Regions from separate parts of the Homo sapiens genome. Here region 1 is linked to region 2. Evidence: fine-mapped expression QTL. Tissue or cell type: whole blood. Region 2 holds a variant in brackets; the other region holds the start of a gene. All regions are shown on one strand. Distances are between the middles of the regions.

The links. PIP is the estimated chance that this variant, and not a neighbour inherited with it, causes the effect.
Region 1: it holds the start of WDR6, and the variant in region 2 is fine-mapped to the expression of WDR6 in whole blood (INTERVAL, PIP above 0.99).

Annotation. Positions count from the first base shown.
Region 1 is chr3:49,003,786-49,011,875 of GRCh38, reverse strand. WDR6 (WD repeat domain 6) reads right to left here and starts at 4,485. Exons shown (of 6, transcript NM_018031.6): 1 at 4,345-4,485; 2 at 1-241. The coding sequence starts at 4,444. It overlaps P4HTM (prolyl 4-hydroxylase, transmembrane), which reads right to left. Exons shown (of 9, transcript NM_177939.3): 5 at 7,616-7,778; 6 at 6,830-7,015; 7 at 6,009-6,099; 8 at 5,689-5,812; 9 at 4,723-5,189. The coding sequence ends at 4,969. RefSeq lists silencers at 3,811-3,990, 4,531-4,580 and an enhancer at 4,719-5,707.
Region 2 is chr3:48,017,382-48,025,484 of GRCh38, reverse strand. It overlaps a transcript of MAP4 not described here. Among named protein-coding and RNA genes, the nearest start is that of MAP4, 5.0 kb to the right of the region's middle. The variant C/A (reference allele first, on the strand shown) is at 4,599.

The DNA of each region.
Region 1 (8,090 bases), 990 kb before region 2:
TTCCACAGGCCAGAGCGCCAAAGCTCCCAGAAGTGGCCCTGTCCCCAGCTAATTTTCACAACTCGGAGTCCCTTGCTTCCAAACACAGCCACCATGGCCTCCAAGTCAAGGTCTCCATTAGGCTCTGGCCGTACCCGGAAGCCATGGATAAGATAGTGGCCAAGCAGGTTCTGCACTCGCTTTATCATCCGCAGATGCCCACCAAAGTCCAAGCTGTACACCAGGACATCGGGACCCTCACCTAGATAGAGGCAAAGAGCCATGTCAGAGCTAGGTACCTAACTCTGATGACCCACAGGGAAGAGATGGGGATCAGGGAAACTTCTCGGCATGTAGCCTATGAATGCATCAGGACACACAATCCTGCAGCTTGAATCTTAGAAAATCCTTGGTCTCGGCCGGGTGCGGTGGCTCACGCCTGTAATCTGGGCACTTTGGAAAGCCAAAGCCAGACTCTGTCTCAAAAGAAAAAAAAAAAAAAGAAAATCCTTGGTCTCGGCCAGGCACGGTGGCTCACGCCTGTAATCCTAGCACTTTGGGAAGCCCAGGCGGATGAATCACCTGAGGTCAGGGGTTCAGGACTAGCCTGGCCAACAAGGTGAAAACCCCATCTCTACTAAAAAATTAGCCAGGTGTGGTGGCACGTGCCTGTAATCCCAGCTACTCAGGAGGCTGAGGCAGGAGAATCGCTTGAACCCAGCGGGTGGAGGTTGCAGTGAGCCAAGATCATACCACTTCACTCCAGCCTGGGCGAAAGACTCAAAAAAAAAAAAAGAAAAAAGAAAATCCTTGGTCTCAGCTTCAGCTGGACTTTCAGTGCTGACTTTGTGCTTCCCTCATCAGTCATTCTTTTTTTTTTTGAGACAGAGTCTCATTCTGTCGCTGAGGCTGGAGTGCAGTGGCACCGTGCAGCTCACTGCAACCTCCATCTCCTGGGTTCAAGCAACTCTCCTGCCTCAGCCTCCCAAGTAGCTGGAATTACAGGCGCCCACCACCACACCTGGCTAGTTTTTTTTTTTTTTTTTTGAGACGGAGTCTTGCTCTGTAGCCCAGGCTGGAGTGCAGTGGCACGATCTCAGCTCACTGCAAGTTCCACCTCCCGGGTTCAGGCCATTCTCCTGCCTCAGCCTCCCGAGTAGCTGGGACTACAGGGGCCTGCCCCCATGCCCGGCTAATTTTTTGTATTTTTAATAGAGACAGGGTTTCACCGTGTTAGCCAGGATGATCTCGATCTCCTGACCTCGTGATCTGCCCGCCTCAGCCTCCCAAAGTGCTGGGATTATAGGCGTGAGCCACCAAGCCCGACCAGTTTTTATATTTTTAGTAGAGACAGGGTTTCACCATGTTGGCCACGCTGGTCTCGAACTCCTGACCTGCGGTGATCCACCCACCTTGGCCTCCCAAAGTGCCGGGATTACAGGCGTGAGCCATTGTGCCCGGCCCCCTCATCAGTCACTCTTTTTTTTTTTTGAGACAAAGTCTCACTCTGCCGCCCAAGCTGGAGTGCTGTGGCGCGATCTTGGCTCACTACAAGCTCTGCCTCCCAGGTTTACGCCATCCTCCTGCCTCAGCCTCCCAAGTAGCTGGGACTACAGGCATCCGCCACCATGCCCGGCTAATTTTTTGTATTTTTAGTAGAGACGGGGTTTCACTGTGTTAGCCAGGATGGTCTCGATCTCCTGACCTCATGATCCGCCCACCTCGGCCTCCCAAAGTGCTGGGAATACAGGCGTGAGCCACCGCGCCCAGCCTCATCAGTCACGCTTGATGTTCACTTCAACCACAAATTTCTCAAACTCAGAGCCTCCTCCTCACCTCACTTTTTTTTTTTAATTAAAAAAAAAATAGAGATGGGGCCTGGCACAGTGGCTCACACCGATAATCCCAGCACTTTGGAAGGCAGGAGGCTCGCTTAAGCCCAGGAGTTTGAGACCAGCCTGGGCAACAGGGCAAAACTCCACCTCTAAAAAAATTATACAAATGAGCTGGGCATAATGGCGCATGCCTGTAGTCCCAGCTACTTGGGAGGCTGAGGTGAGAGGATCTCTTGAGCCCAAGAGGTGGAAGTTGCAGTGACCTGAGATTGCACCACTGCACTCCACCCTGAGCAATAGAGCAAGACTCTGTCTCAAAAAAAAAAAAAGTAAAATAAAATGAGAAGGATTTTGACAATGCAAAAAGAAAATAAAAGATGTAAAATGAGAAAGTCTAATCCAGTGGTTCTCCACAGGGGGCAACTTTCCCCACAGGAGACATCTAGCAATAGCTGGAGACACGTACGGCTGTCTCCAGGGGTTGTGCTACTGGCAAGTAAGGCCAGGGATGATGCTAAACATCCTACAATGCACAAACAGCATTCCAACAAAGAATTATCTGGTCTAAAAGGTCAATCGAGGCAAGATTGAGAAAACCCTGGTCTAATCTAACAAGACTGGGTGAGTGTAAGGGGAGGCCAACTTGAGGACACAATATTTAGAGTTAGGATTCAAGGATAAGCAGCAGTTAGCCAGAGGAAAGGAGGCGGAAGAGGGGGACTGGGAAATGTTGGGGCGGGGGGGGGGGGGTGGGGAGCAATGGGAGGGTTTGCAGCTTTCTTGGTGGAGAAAACAGCATGTATGATTGCCCTGAGATGGGCAAGAGCATTGAGTATGGTGGATGGAACAGGAAATGAAGAGCTCAGGAAGAGGCTAGAGAGGCCGGGTATGGTGGCTCATGCCTATAATTCCAGCAATTTGGGGGGCTGAGGCAGGCGAATCACTTGAGGTCAGGAGTTTGAGACCAGCCTGGCCAACATGGTGAGGCCCCATCTCTACTAAAAATACAACAATTAGCTGGGCATGGTGGTGGGCACCTGTAATCCCAGCTACTCCGGAGGCTGAGGCAGGAGAATCACTTGAACCTGGGAGGCGGAGGTTGCAGGGAGCCGAGACCGTGCCACTGCACTCCAGCCTGGGTGACAGAGGAAGACTGTCTCAAAAACAAACAAACAAACAAACAAAAAACACACACACACAGAATTGTAGCTATATAAAAGTCACTTTGGAAGCCACAGAAGTAGGTGAATTCACTTGCAGAGCTTCTTAAACTGCATTTCCCAAGTTATTCCCCACCTTAAAACCCTTCAATAGGTTCTCCCCACTGCCCTTAGGGATAAAGTCAGATCAAGGCCTGAAACAATGTGGCCTCTGCTCGCTTGTCCAGCTTCCTTTCCTCCCAGACTCCATTCCTGCTCTAACTTCACAAGAATTCCCTCCTTCCCCCAAAATGACAGATTCTTCCAGCCTCAAGGCCTTTGGCATGCTTACCCTCTTGCCAGGAACTCACCCCTTTTCCTAGTTCACTCTTGTGGTTCTTTGAGTTTCTGCTTCGTTGTTCCCCCTCAAGGAGCCTTAGGAGTTTAGCTCGCGGTAGGAACTCCGCGCTCCAAGAACCCCCACACCAGATCAAAACTGGATCATCCCCACCCCATACACACACCCTCTTAGGACTGGTGGCAACTCACTCAAGGCCTGACCGCCAAGGCCCTGCCTCAGGACCCTTATACAACTCAGCAGCACCAACATGGGTCATTAGTGGCTTCATGTAATGACTGTTCGAGACCAGCCTGGACTCTGACACCTCAGGTCCCAGGCCTCGCCTGTCCTTTGCGACCCGGTTCTCCTTGGAGGGACCTCCACACCTGATTTCCTGGACCTCAACCATCTCAGGAGGGGGTCTCAGCCCCTGCTTCCCCGGGCACCGCCCCCTACTCGGAAAGGTCTTATCCGCCGTTTTCCGCGACGCCACCCTCCTCAGAGGATCTTCACCCCCACCTTAGGGGGAAGAGACTCATCCCGCCCTCGAGAGGCCACACCCTTGCCCTCTCCCGGCCCCGCCTTCCCCAAGAGGCCACACCCCCTGAGGGGCCGGGGCCGCCTCCGCCTCCTCCTCCTCCTCCTCCCTCCGCCCCCCCCAGCTCGGCCCCGTCTCCTTCGGAGAGGCCAAGCCCCCGCCCATCTCCTAGAAGGGAGCACACCCCCTCAACCCTCAGCTCCCGGGCCTCCGCCTCCGCCTCCGCGCGGCCGCGTTCCCCTGCACCCTCCCGCGGTTCCACCCGCCCTTTCCACGCGGGCTGAAGTTTATGAAGCGCCGCGGCGGCCACATCAGCTTTGTCTCTCGGGCCCCGCCCTCTTCAGGTTGGCCCTCGTCCCCGCCATCTCCGGGGCTCCCTTCCCACCTCCGATCGGCCTCAACCTGCTGCCCGTCCTTCTCCTCAGGGCACCCCTTTTGTCCCTGTGGCACCGCCCCTGGGAGGCGCTGTTTCTTTCCCCCTTTCCACCAGGCGTGCCTCAAGCCAAGCCTCACCCGCCAACAGCCGGTCCCCCACGCACTCCAGACCCGTCACTGGGAGGAGTATAAGCTCCGAGGTTGCCCGCGGCCAAACGTAGTCCTCGAGAGCGTCCATGTCGATCCTCGAGGTGCTGAGGCAGCCACGGCTAAGAAGGGAGCTGAACTCTCGCGAGAACGAGCCTTCCCAGCGCGCCGCGCTGCCCATCAACAGCGCCCTCAGCTACAGGTAGCAGAGACCAGGGCGCCCGCGGCGGTTGTCCAATGACGACCCTTCGTCCCACGCAATCCAGCTCATCATTGGCGGGGCCCGCGGAGGGGCATCCCGCCCCTCGCCCCCTCACGTGACGCTTGCGGGGCGCTCCCAGCTGCCAGCCCGCTGCACCTATCGCGGACTCTGTTTCGCCGACCCGGAGTTTGTCGGGCCCGGCGGCTCGAACCTTGTGGTTTTTTATTTGACGGGGCAGATGGAGTCAGTACACAATAAATAACATGAATATAGGAACTGCGCCGTATCGCGGCTGGCGGGGTGGGGCAAGACATTGGCCAGACCTTTAGTCTGCAGCAGGACAGAAGGACAGCCGGACCCCTGATCTTGGGCAACTGGCGACCCGCGGCTGGGAACCGGGGCTAACTCTTCCCTCAGAGTTCCACGCGCGCATCGCGGTAGGCCCGGTCCAGAGCCCACTCGGGCTGTGAGTCGGTGCCCCCTTCTCGGGCAAGGCGGGCCATCTCCTGTTGGAACAGCGCTTGCCGCGCTCGGCTGGGGTCCACATTAATCCAGTTGTTGGCAATCCACTTGGTGCCGCGCGTGACCAGGCAGCCCCCGTGCAGCGAGTAGTCGTCTACGTCACCCACCCAACCTAGAAGAGGAGGGTGACGTGAGATCCTAGGCTGGGCTGGCCAGAGCTTGGCCTCATAGGCACCAAGAGCATGACCAAGGTGGGTCCAGCTATGCATTCCTTGTGTAGCAAACACCCAGACCTAAAGCTTCCTTGGAGGCTCCTCATCTCAGCCCACTAATGTATAGTCAACACTACTGGCCCTCTGAAACCAGCTTTCTTGCTGTTGGGCCTGTCCATATCCCTTCCCATCCTGGGTTAGCAAGGGACATGTGTCCCAAGCCCCAGGGAGTAGGAAGGCTGGGGCATCAGGGAATGATAGGGATGGATATAACCCAATAAGCAGTACAGGTCCTGGGGCAGTCTGCTAAAGTCACTAAGGATGGCCTTTGGGAGGCACCAGGAGCAGAAAACTATTTGGAAAGCAGCCAGAAACAGCCCTCCATTGTGGCAGACGGGGGCTGGGTAAAGGGAAGCTGTACTCAGGGCACCCCCCCCAGGCCTGGCCATAGGCCCTCACCTTGCCCATCAGGCAGGTAGTTGTACCAGAAGACTGCTGTGCCCTGTTGGGGCTTGACACGCAGGTTTCCCTTGTCACAGTGCCTCCGTGTGTCACGGAGGTCCACGTCATCCTGAATCAGACTCTGTGGGCAGCAGGGTGGTGGGGTGTTCAACCTGTCCCCACTCTATGGCCAGGCCAGCCAAGGGTGACCAAAGGGAAACCAACCAGATATGCCCAAGGAATAATTTGGGCCCACATCCTTAGACCTGGAGAGGTGTGTACTTCACTTGTCTAAGCCCCTGCCAGCCCACAAGAGTAATAGCCCAGTTGACCCTTACCATTTCATCGTAGGTTCTGTTATCTGCTACAGGGAAAACAGTCTCGCCCCCACCAGTGACGTTGTTCAAATAAAACAGCACTGTCATGTAGCTGTAAGGCAGGGGGGGCACTGAGCAGGTCCCCAGTTGTGGATGCTCCCAGGGGCTTACCTGTGGGCAGGATAAGCTGCCCAGGTTCCTGTTGCCAGGGACCAGGACAGACTAGGATGGGAGACAATAGGGCAGGCCAGTGCCAAAATGTCCCTAGCCCCTCCTTCCCCGAAACCCAGTCTCTTACTGTGAGTTGCAATGGTTTTTTGGCCAAGATCACAGGTGCACTTAGTTAAATGCCATGGCCCTGAGCAAGGGCCTGGCAGGGAAAGGTAGGCTAGCAGAAGCAACAGGGCGCGCTGAAGGGCTCCTTGGGGATGGGAAGGGGCTGGGCCAGAACAGCCACCTGAAGAGGAAAGAACTGGCTTGACAGGGGAGGGAGGCACAGCTTCAGCTTCTCTAAGTGGAATCAAGATCAACACCTGGAGGAATGGGCAGGACAAGCTAGGGGCCCAGCCTTGCCCCTTGCTTCAGAACTCAGGGGGCAAGTTTTGGTGTCTGTGGGTACATCAGTCTGTGTTGACTCCAGTGGTCACGATGACCAGTAGCCACCCCTTTCCAGCCATTGGGTAAACAACTTGTGGGGAGAGGTGAGGGCATCACTAACCGGGATAACCCAGTGATCTCCTGGCCCCATGCCAAGGGGCACGCCCACAGTGCAGGGCTGTGCCTGTGTCATGGGTGTTCCTGGTCTGAGGATTGAAGGCAGCCCCCAGTTGGGAGATACTTGCCGGCAGGAGGTCTCGAAGGGTACAGACTCGTTGGCTACCAGCTTGGTATGGGAGCAGATGGTCTCTGGGTACACAGGCCCACTGTCCACGTGGGCATGGTAGTGGCCCCCCTCACCATATCGAACAACCTGCAGCGGCTCGCTGAGCTCCACGATCTCAGGCGACAGGCGAGTGAGGCGCAGCACCCTGGTGGGCAGCAGGCATTTGGCTGGGCAGCCCCAGGCAAGGTGGTGATCTGAAGGAGCTGGCCAAGGTGGACCCTAGGCCTGCCACAAGCTTTGCCCCTACCCACCTCCCCTGGAAGTCCCTTAAGCCATCTCAGACTGGCCCTGTAAGAGCAGGAGGGGGTTACTCATGATGATCCTTCTCCCTCAGATGCCAAAGACAGAGACACCTGCTATGTGGAAATGTTGACATTTCCACTAAATAAAGGGGGCGGGGAGTCCTGAGGTCCTCCTCCCTGGAAGAAAGTTGTTTATTTAAAAACCCTTTTCCTGCTGTGACGGGGTCAGATAAGGGGTCAAAGATAAGAGGTCATTTATCTAATCAGAAAGAAGTGCTCAATCTCTATCTAACCCCAGTTGCCCATTGTGTGCCTGCAAGGAGGGCTAATTTGCCTTTGTTAATTGCCTGTCTTTCAGTGGGTCCCAATCCTGGTCTAACAAATGGAACTTAATCCCAAATGGGTTAATCCATTCTGTCCTCTTGGCCCCAGACAAGGACTTCTGTGGAGGCCCTGCCCAGTCTTCTCCCCCTGCTCCAGTGAGAACAGCTTCAGGTGCTCACCTCTGGCGGATGGCACGCATGATGTGGTGGGCACCCTCACCCTGGTAGAGCCAGGTATGGTGGCTGTTCCGCACCAGCTCACTGGACTCTGCCTTGTGGCTCCTCATGTACTTGTGGAAGTCCCGAAGGTCCATGTTGGAGAACTCCTGCAGACTCAGCACTCCTGCACAGGGCACCCACCATCAATGCCCACCAAGCCCATATTGGGAGGCAACAGTGGCAGGCTGCACTTCCCTACCTACCCCAAAGGCAGCAGCAGCCCCTGACCTCAGGCACTGAGGGGCCTTGTACACTTGTCCCCCACCTGGACTTTTGGGTCAGATGAACCTGGTTTCTGTCACATCAGGCCTTACAGGAAGACCCAGAGCAGTTCCTTTTCTCAGTTTAAGCCCTAATTTGGCCCTAAGAAGAAAGAGGCCCACCCCCTATTAGAGTGGCCAGAGAAGGTTCTCCAAAGGAAGCTTGAGCCATATGG
Region 2 (8,103 bases):
AAAACCCGTCTCTACTAATAATACAAAAATTAGCTGGGCATGGTGATGCACGCCTGTACTGCCCGCTACTTGGGAGGCTGAGGCATGAGAATTACTTGAACCCAGGAGGCAGAGGTGGCAGTGAGCCGAGATCGCACCATTGCACTCTAGCCTGCATGACAGAGACTCTGTCTCAAAAAAAAAAAAAAAAAAGTGTGTAGGTATGTATACCTAATAAAATTAGCGCTTTCTAAAAATGCAGTGCTTGTCATTTACTATTAAGTCAAGCCATATGAAATCACATTTTGTCAGTAAATAAATGTTCAGATATCCACAATCTTATACAGTTCTAATAGATACTCAAGAAATTTTGTCGACATGAAGAGAGTCAAATCATAAAATGGTAGACTGAAAAAGAACTTCGTGGAGAATTCTTTTCTTTTTGCAAACAGAGGTGACTGGGAGGTCGAGGCTGCAGTAAGTCATGGTCATGCCACTGCACTCGAGCCTGGACACCAGAGTGAGACCCTGCTTCAAAAAAAAAAAGAAAAAGAAATGATTGCACTGCCTTTTTTTGGTTTTGGAACAAATATTGTGATAATAACTTTTACTTATAAATGTAGCACAGAAATCTTTTACTTTGTAAAAGTCCCTGAATAGAAAGTCAGGAGACCTGTTTCTCCTACCAACTAGTATAATTTTTGGAAAGCTCATTGTTCATCAGTTTCCTTATTTGTAAAATGAGGATGTTAGATATGTAAGATCTCTGTATTAATTAGGATAGTTGATGCTAACTCTTTAACATAACTAGCATTTCAGTGACTTAACACAATAATGGTTTATTTCTTGCTCACGTCATAGTGTGAGTGTTTAGCCTGTGGCTGTCATGTAATTGAGGAATTTCAACTCCTTCCATCTGGTGTCTTGGAGTCTCCTGCTGGATTCTTTGTATTTAGTTGGTTGATAGCAAAGAGCACCAGCAAGCAGAATTTCATCAAGTGCTTTGTAGTGAAGCATAATTCTTCAGCTCACATTGCACTGTCTAGAACCCACTCACATGGTCTCAACTTCTAACTCCAAGGGAAATAGGAAATGTCTTTCTGAGCACCCAGGGAGAAGAAACAGAATCCCCATCTTTGCCACGGTCCCTTTCATTTTGTACATTTTTAAAATTTTTTTATTTATTATTTTTTTTAAAGACAGAGTCAAACTCTGTTGCCCAGGCTGGAGTGCAGTGGTGTGATCTCAGCTCACTGCAACCTCTGCCTCCCAGGTTCAAGCGATTCTCCTGCCTCAGCCTCCCGAGTAGCTGGGACTACAGGCACGCTCCACCACGCCCAGCTAATTTTTGTATTTTTAGTAGAGACAGGATTTCACCATGTTGGCCTGGATGGTCTCGATCTCTTGACCTCATGATCCACCTGCCTCGGCCTCCCCAAGTGCTGGGATTACTGGCGTGAGCCACTGCACCTGGCCCATTTTTTGATTCTTTATTCACACCCAAATACTTTCTCCTGTTGCATATTGCTTTTTGTATCTTTGGTTACTCTGAATTTACTTCCAAATTTCTTGGAAGGAGTTTAGTATTGCAAGTCAAAGCAGCCCTTTGGTGCTTGCTATGTTTAGGAGAGGGTCTCCCCCCAACCCCTGCCATCCCCAGATGAGTATATTTGTTATTTTTGTTAGTAGTTTCATTTGTGGTGTAAGTTTGTCTTTTATATTGTCATGGCTTGCTTAGTTTTAAATGATTAAAAATACATCAATTGCAAAAATCTCCCAGTGCTTGTATAAGAAAAACAATAGAATATTGAACACAGCCAACTTCAGAGGGAAAGTCATTGTCTACCATGTTCAGTCTAGCAGCCTGCTAGCAGAAGGGAAAACAGACAAACCTTATACTGTCTTTTAAAGGTCAGCACATGCAGACTTAGAGACCAATAGAGAAACACATTCCAGTGAGCAGGCAAAGTTCTCTTTGACTTCTGCCCACTTAAGAGTAAACTCAGAGAGTCAGCAAAAGTCTTTCAGTTGATTTCAGCTGCTGTTTTGGAGTCATCTCCATCTTTCCGAAGCCTCCTTCTCTTTTCTCCTTTTTTGTTCTTTCTTGATACATTATATTGTACATGTTCATTTGTATGTAAATACAAAATATCCTTCTTTATGGATCCATCTTATGTTGGTAAGTTTGATGAGAGTGTTCTAATTCTAAGCCTTGTCTCCTTAAAATATATAATTATCTCAGAATAATGCCATAGTTCAGTTTGCCTTATGTTTGGATTAGTACTTTCTTGTGTAGTTCTCTTTCAGTAAACTGCTCCCCTCCCCTGTTTTTAATTGCACCTTTTTTCATATACCATTTGCACCACATGTCTAAGTCATTGGTCTTTTTAAATTACACTATGGAAAGGTTAATTTTGGACAGAGTTGTTTCTAGATCCTAGTGCATTATCGTCATCCTAGGATTGCATTTCATTTCTCTTGTAGGCTAATGGTACTATTTTTTGGATATTGCAGCTTTAATAGGATGCTGTGTTCATTTTTCATTTCCTGGAGTCTGTGCTGAAGTTCATTTTCAGAAAGAATGCCTGGAAAATAAATTTTTTTTTTTCCCCCCTGAGATGGAGTGTCACTCTGTTGCCCAGGCTGGAGTGCCGTGGCGCAATCTTGGCTCACTGCAACCTCTGCCTCCCGGGTTCAAGTGATTCTTCTGCCTCAGCCCCCTGAGTAGCTGGGACTATAGGCGCATGCCACCACGCACAGCTAATTTTGTTGTGTTTTTCGTAGAGACGGGGTTTCACCATGTTGGCTAGGATGGTCTCCATCTCTTGACCTTGTGATCCGCTCGCCTCAGCCTCGCAAAGTGCTGGGATTACAGGCATGAGCCACCACGCCCAGCCAATAATTTTTTTTAAATTGTGTGTTTGAATTTCCCATTTTAGCCTTCACTTAATGGATGAGTTGGCTGTAAAAATCTAGCTTCAAAATAGTTTTTCTCAGTTTTAAAGGCATCACTTCATTTTTTAAAAAAAATCATTTAGTGTTACAATTAGAAATAAGCCCATCTGTTTCTTGTAAGTTGGTAAGTACTGCTGAGGGGAATTTCCCTCCCTCCCTTCTTGCCACCTTGCCGAGGCTGTATTCAAATTCCTGGGCTCAAATGATCCTCCCACCTCATCATCTTCTTTTTGCTTTTCTTTTTTCCTTCTTTTGTCCCTGTCTCTCTACTCTCTCCATTGTCTGTTCGTTTTCTTCATCTGCCTCTGTGATCATGAAAATATTCGCCATGTTATTGTTTACCGTTCACATTTAGGGCTGCCATCCACCTGGAATTACTTTTTGTATATACTGTGAGGTAGAGCTCAAAATATCCAGTTGACCCAGCACCACTTATTGAAAAGACAGTTAATTCCCCCACTATTTTGCAGTGTCACATTTGTCAGATATTAAGTATCCATATGCATGTGGTTCCGTTTCAAAACCATTTTTTTGCATTGGCCTCTTGTTTTGTTTTGTTTTGTTTTTCCATATGTTCAGCACACCAAGTACATTGGCCTCTTTCTTGGTGATTGTGCAGGTACCACAATGTTTTCATTACTATATTTATGTATTTTTAGTTTCAAACATATGACATTGCCATAGGTTAGAAACTCATCAGTTTTCAGCATTTTCACATGGTTCAATCCATCAGTAAGTTTTGATATCCAGTAGTTTAAGTTCCTCTAAGTTTGTTCTCAAAGATTATCTTAGCTGTTCTTGACTTTTTAAATTACTATGTAAAACTTAGGATCAACTTTTCAGTTTGATTTGAAAAGAAAAAACCTACTGGACTTTGCTTGGGGTTATGTTAAATCTATAGATTAGGCCGGGCGTGGTGTCTCACGCCTGTAATCCCAACACTTTAGGAGGCCAAGACAGGTGGATCACAAGGTCAGGAGTTTGAGAACAGCCTGGCCAACATGGTGAAACCCTGTCTCTACTAAAAATACAAAAATTAGCCGGATGTGGTGGCGCACGCCTGTGGTCCCAGCTATTCAGGAGGCTGAGGCAGGAGAATTGCTTGAACCTGGGAGGCGGAGGTTGCAGTGAGCCAAGATCATGTGCCACTGCACTCCAGCCTGGGCAACAGAGTGAGACTCTGTCTAAAAAAAAAAACAAAAACAAACAAAAACTATAGATTAGTTTGGGGATAGTTGATACCTTTAAAATATCATAAAACCTTAAAATAAAATAAAACCTTATAGGTTTTTCCTAAAAGCACTCCCTTAGTAAATCACTTGTACAAAAATCCGTGCCTCAGATTCTACATCTAGTAAACTGATTCTAAAACACCTTCCTAACAAGGGGGAGTGTGATGTCTTTCTATTGTTAAGTTGTATTAATCCTGTGTTGCATTTCATTTCAGTGAATTTTATCTTGAATGGATTAGGTAGATTGTTGATTAATTCAGTGACCCTCAATTGTGGGTGCCTCTCGGACTCAACTTTAATGAGATTTCTCTGTGTCATGATTACCCTTACTGCAAGAAAACCAACAACACTGAGATTTTTGGTGCAGTAGCACATGCTTCTAGTCTCAGCTACCTGGGAGGTTGAGGCTGGAGGATCGCTTGAGCCCAGGAG[C/A]TTGAAGCTGTAGTGTACAATGAGCACACCTGTGACTAGCCAATGCACTCCAGCCTGGGCAACATAGTGTGACTTGTCTCTAAAAAAAACAAAACAACAACAACAAATAATACTCATATTGCTTAACCCTGTCCCTGAACAATTCTGATCCAGCGTGTTTTTTTTGTTTTTTTAATACTTTTAATTCAGATTTTTACTTGTATTTCAGGTAAAATATTAAAAGTTATGTTACTAATAACTTGAAAGATCTCTTCAACTTTTGCTGTTCAATTTTCATTTAATAATGATATTCCCCCCCTCCTTTTTGAAAGCATCTGTAAGATATTAGGTCAAAGTAAGGCCTTTGCCACGACTACAAAATGCTTGTTAAGTACTCCCATAGAGTTTGTATCTTCTCCTTCTTGCTCAGAAAAGCTGAGCTACTCTACCCTTAGTCGTGCCTAGAACCAATACTTAGAAGAACTATGAGGGTGCTTCCAGCTGTGCAAACATCAACCCCAGCAAGAGAAGGCTGGTATGGTATGGAGCAGAGCGCACCTAGCAGGACAAATGTGCATTTAATGAGAGCCTGTGAGGTTTCAAGTTTATTATATTTAGATGTCCAGGATAAAAGGTGAGAAAGATGCTATCCTAGCCATCGAGGAACTCAAGCGTTAAGGGGAACTCTGGGTGGGACACACATTGTAAATAAACAATTACAAGGGTGGGCATGGTGGCTCACACCTGTAATCCCAACACTTTGGGAGGCTGAGGCAGGCGAATCACTTGAGGTCAGGAGTTCAAGACCAGCCTGACTAACATGGTGAAACCCTGTCTCTACTAAAAATACAAAAATCTCCGTCTCAAAAACCCCACAAAAAACAAAACAAAACAAAAATTATAGAATTGGCAGCACAAATTCCTATGTCCTCTTCTACCTTCCACTTTTCTTTATTTTCACTGATATAAAATAGAGTGAAACTTCACTTTGCTTAATGGGAGAAGTTTTTCTTTTGTTATCTATTATTTTCAAGACAGGGCCTCACTCTGTAGCCCAGGCTGGAGTGCAGTGGTGCTATCACGGCTCACTGCAGCCTTGAACTTCCTCTGCTGAAGTGATCCGTCCACCTCAGCCTCCCAAGAGCTGGGACCACAGGTGTGCAGGCTAATTTTAAAATGTTTTCTGTGGAGACGCAGTCTCAACTGTGTTGCCCAGGCTGGTCTTGTACTCTTGGGCTCAAGCAGTTTTCCTGCCTCAGCCTTCCAGAATGTTGGGATTATAGGCATGAACCACCATGCCCAGCCAAAAGAGAGTTTTTTCTTTAATAAAATAGTTCTCAAAAGCTAAGAGCTGATCAAGTATGAATATTCTTCCTTTCTTCCAATCTCCTCAGCACTAAGTCATCCTAAAGTTACATGATATGCTTATTACTTTCTGACAGATATATGAGCTGATAACTATAGAGATTTAATATTTTAATAATTATAAAGTTTTAATATTTATATGATCATATTAACATGATGGTAGTGGCTGATATCTTTCTCTCTTTCTCTCTCTGTCCCTCAGAGATGTGGTCTCACTTTCTCGCCCAGACTGGAGTACAGTGTTGTAATCATAGCTCACTGCATCCTCAAGCTCCTGGGCTCAAGGAATCCTACTGCCTCAGCCTCCTGAGAGGCTGGCACTACAGGCACACACCACCATGCCCAGCTAATTAAAAACATTTTTTTTTGTAGAGATGGTGTCTTGCCATCTTGCCCAGGCTAGTCTTGAATTCCTGGGCTCAAGTGGTCTTCCTGCTTTGGCCTCCCAGAGTTCTGGGATTACAGGTGTGAGTCACCATGCCAGGCCAGTAACTGGTCGACCATCTTGAATATTTGTTTTTGCCACATTGCATCATGTCATGCTTTTCTAAAAGCAGAGAGAGCTATTTTTATTGCTATGCCTAATAATGATAAGATGACCAGCATGGAGAGCTGGTTCGTACGGTTACTCCTTACTGGCTTTCTTTCTATAATTCCAGACAACATGCTTGCTCTTGTACAAACTGTGTTTAGAAAGTGGAAGAAAATAGGTGAATATTCTTTTTTATTTTTATTTTTTTGAGACAGAGTCTCACTCTGTCACCCAGGCTGGAGTGCAGTGACACGATCTTGGCTCACTGCAACCTCCACCTCCCAGGTTCAAGTGATTCTCCTGCCTCAGCCTCTCGAGTAGCTGGGACTACAGGTGCACACCACCACGCCCGGCTAATTTTTGTATTTTTAGTAGAGAGGGGTTTCACCTTGTTGGCCAGGATGGTCTCAATCTCTTGACCTCATAATCCACCCACCTCAGCCTCCCAAAGTGCTGAGTGCTGGGATTACAAGCATGAGCCACCACACCTAGCCAAGGTGAATATTTGTAATTGGTGATAACCTTTCAGCCTTGAATCTGTTTATTCTTTTTCTAGTTGTGAAGAGTTTTTGTAATTTTGGAACTTCTGATTAATTTCAAATTAGATTCAATTTCTAATAACTTTCATCGTGTCATTTTAGAAATGTGTTTTTAGCCCCTTGTTTTGTTGGTTTTTATCATTTTGGCCTGTCTCCTCTGTAGTCTACTAGGAACAGAGAAGGTGTGCACATCACTTTGATGTGGTCCTCTCTTCTGGGACCCAGCAGTTTACAGGAGCTGGTATATACAACTAACTACAGTGGGGGGTCCCCAACCCTCGGTCTGTAGATTGGTACCAGTCCATGGCCAGTTAGGAACTGGGCTGCACGGCAGGAGGTGAGCAGCAGGTGAACAGCATTACATTAACTTTGCGATAAGTGTGCCTGAGTTCTGCCTTCTGTCAGATCAGCAGTGGTTTTAGATTATCATAGGAGCGCAAACCCTATTGTGAACTGCACATGCGATGGATCTAGGTTGCATGCTCCTGTGAGAATCTAATGACTGATGATCGGAGGTGGAAGAGTTTCATCCCGAAACCATCTCCTCCCTCTCACCCCTCCTGCTATCTGTGGAAAAATTGTTTTCCACGAAACCTGTCCCTGGTGCCAAAAGGTTTGGGGACCACTGAACTACAGTATAGATCAGACTCTACTGTTACAAGTACAGATGATGTATTAGTTCTGAATACTACTGGGAGAAAGATTCTAAAAAGCAGTCACAGAAAAGGTGGTAAGACAATTTATGTGGACCTTGATTTCAAGACTTTCACAAATGAGGAGGGAGAGAAGATAACTTCAAGTTTGGAGAGCAAATGAGCATAGGGTGTACAGTGATAATGTAAGATGGTAGATGGTCCCATGTGACTAAATTGTAGGGAGACCCTACATGGAAAGCTGCTGATGATTATGGTGGGTGATAGGACTGAGTCTTGTCAGTCAGCCTTGATATTACACGTAAGAGTTTGGATTTACAAAAAAAAAAAAAAAGAAAAAAGAAAAAGACATCTAGGCATTGGGGTCCCTTTAAAGATCAGGTGGAATGTTTTCCTGATGTTCAGGATTCTTCCTGCCTGCCTCCCTCCTTGCAGAA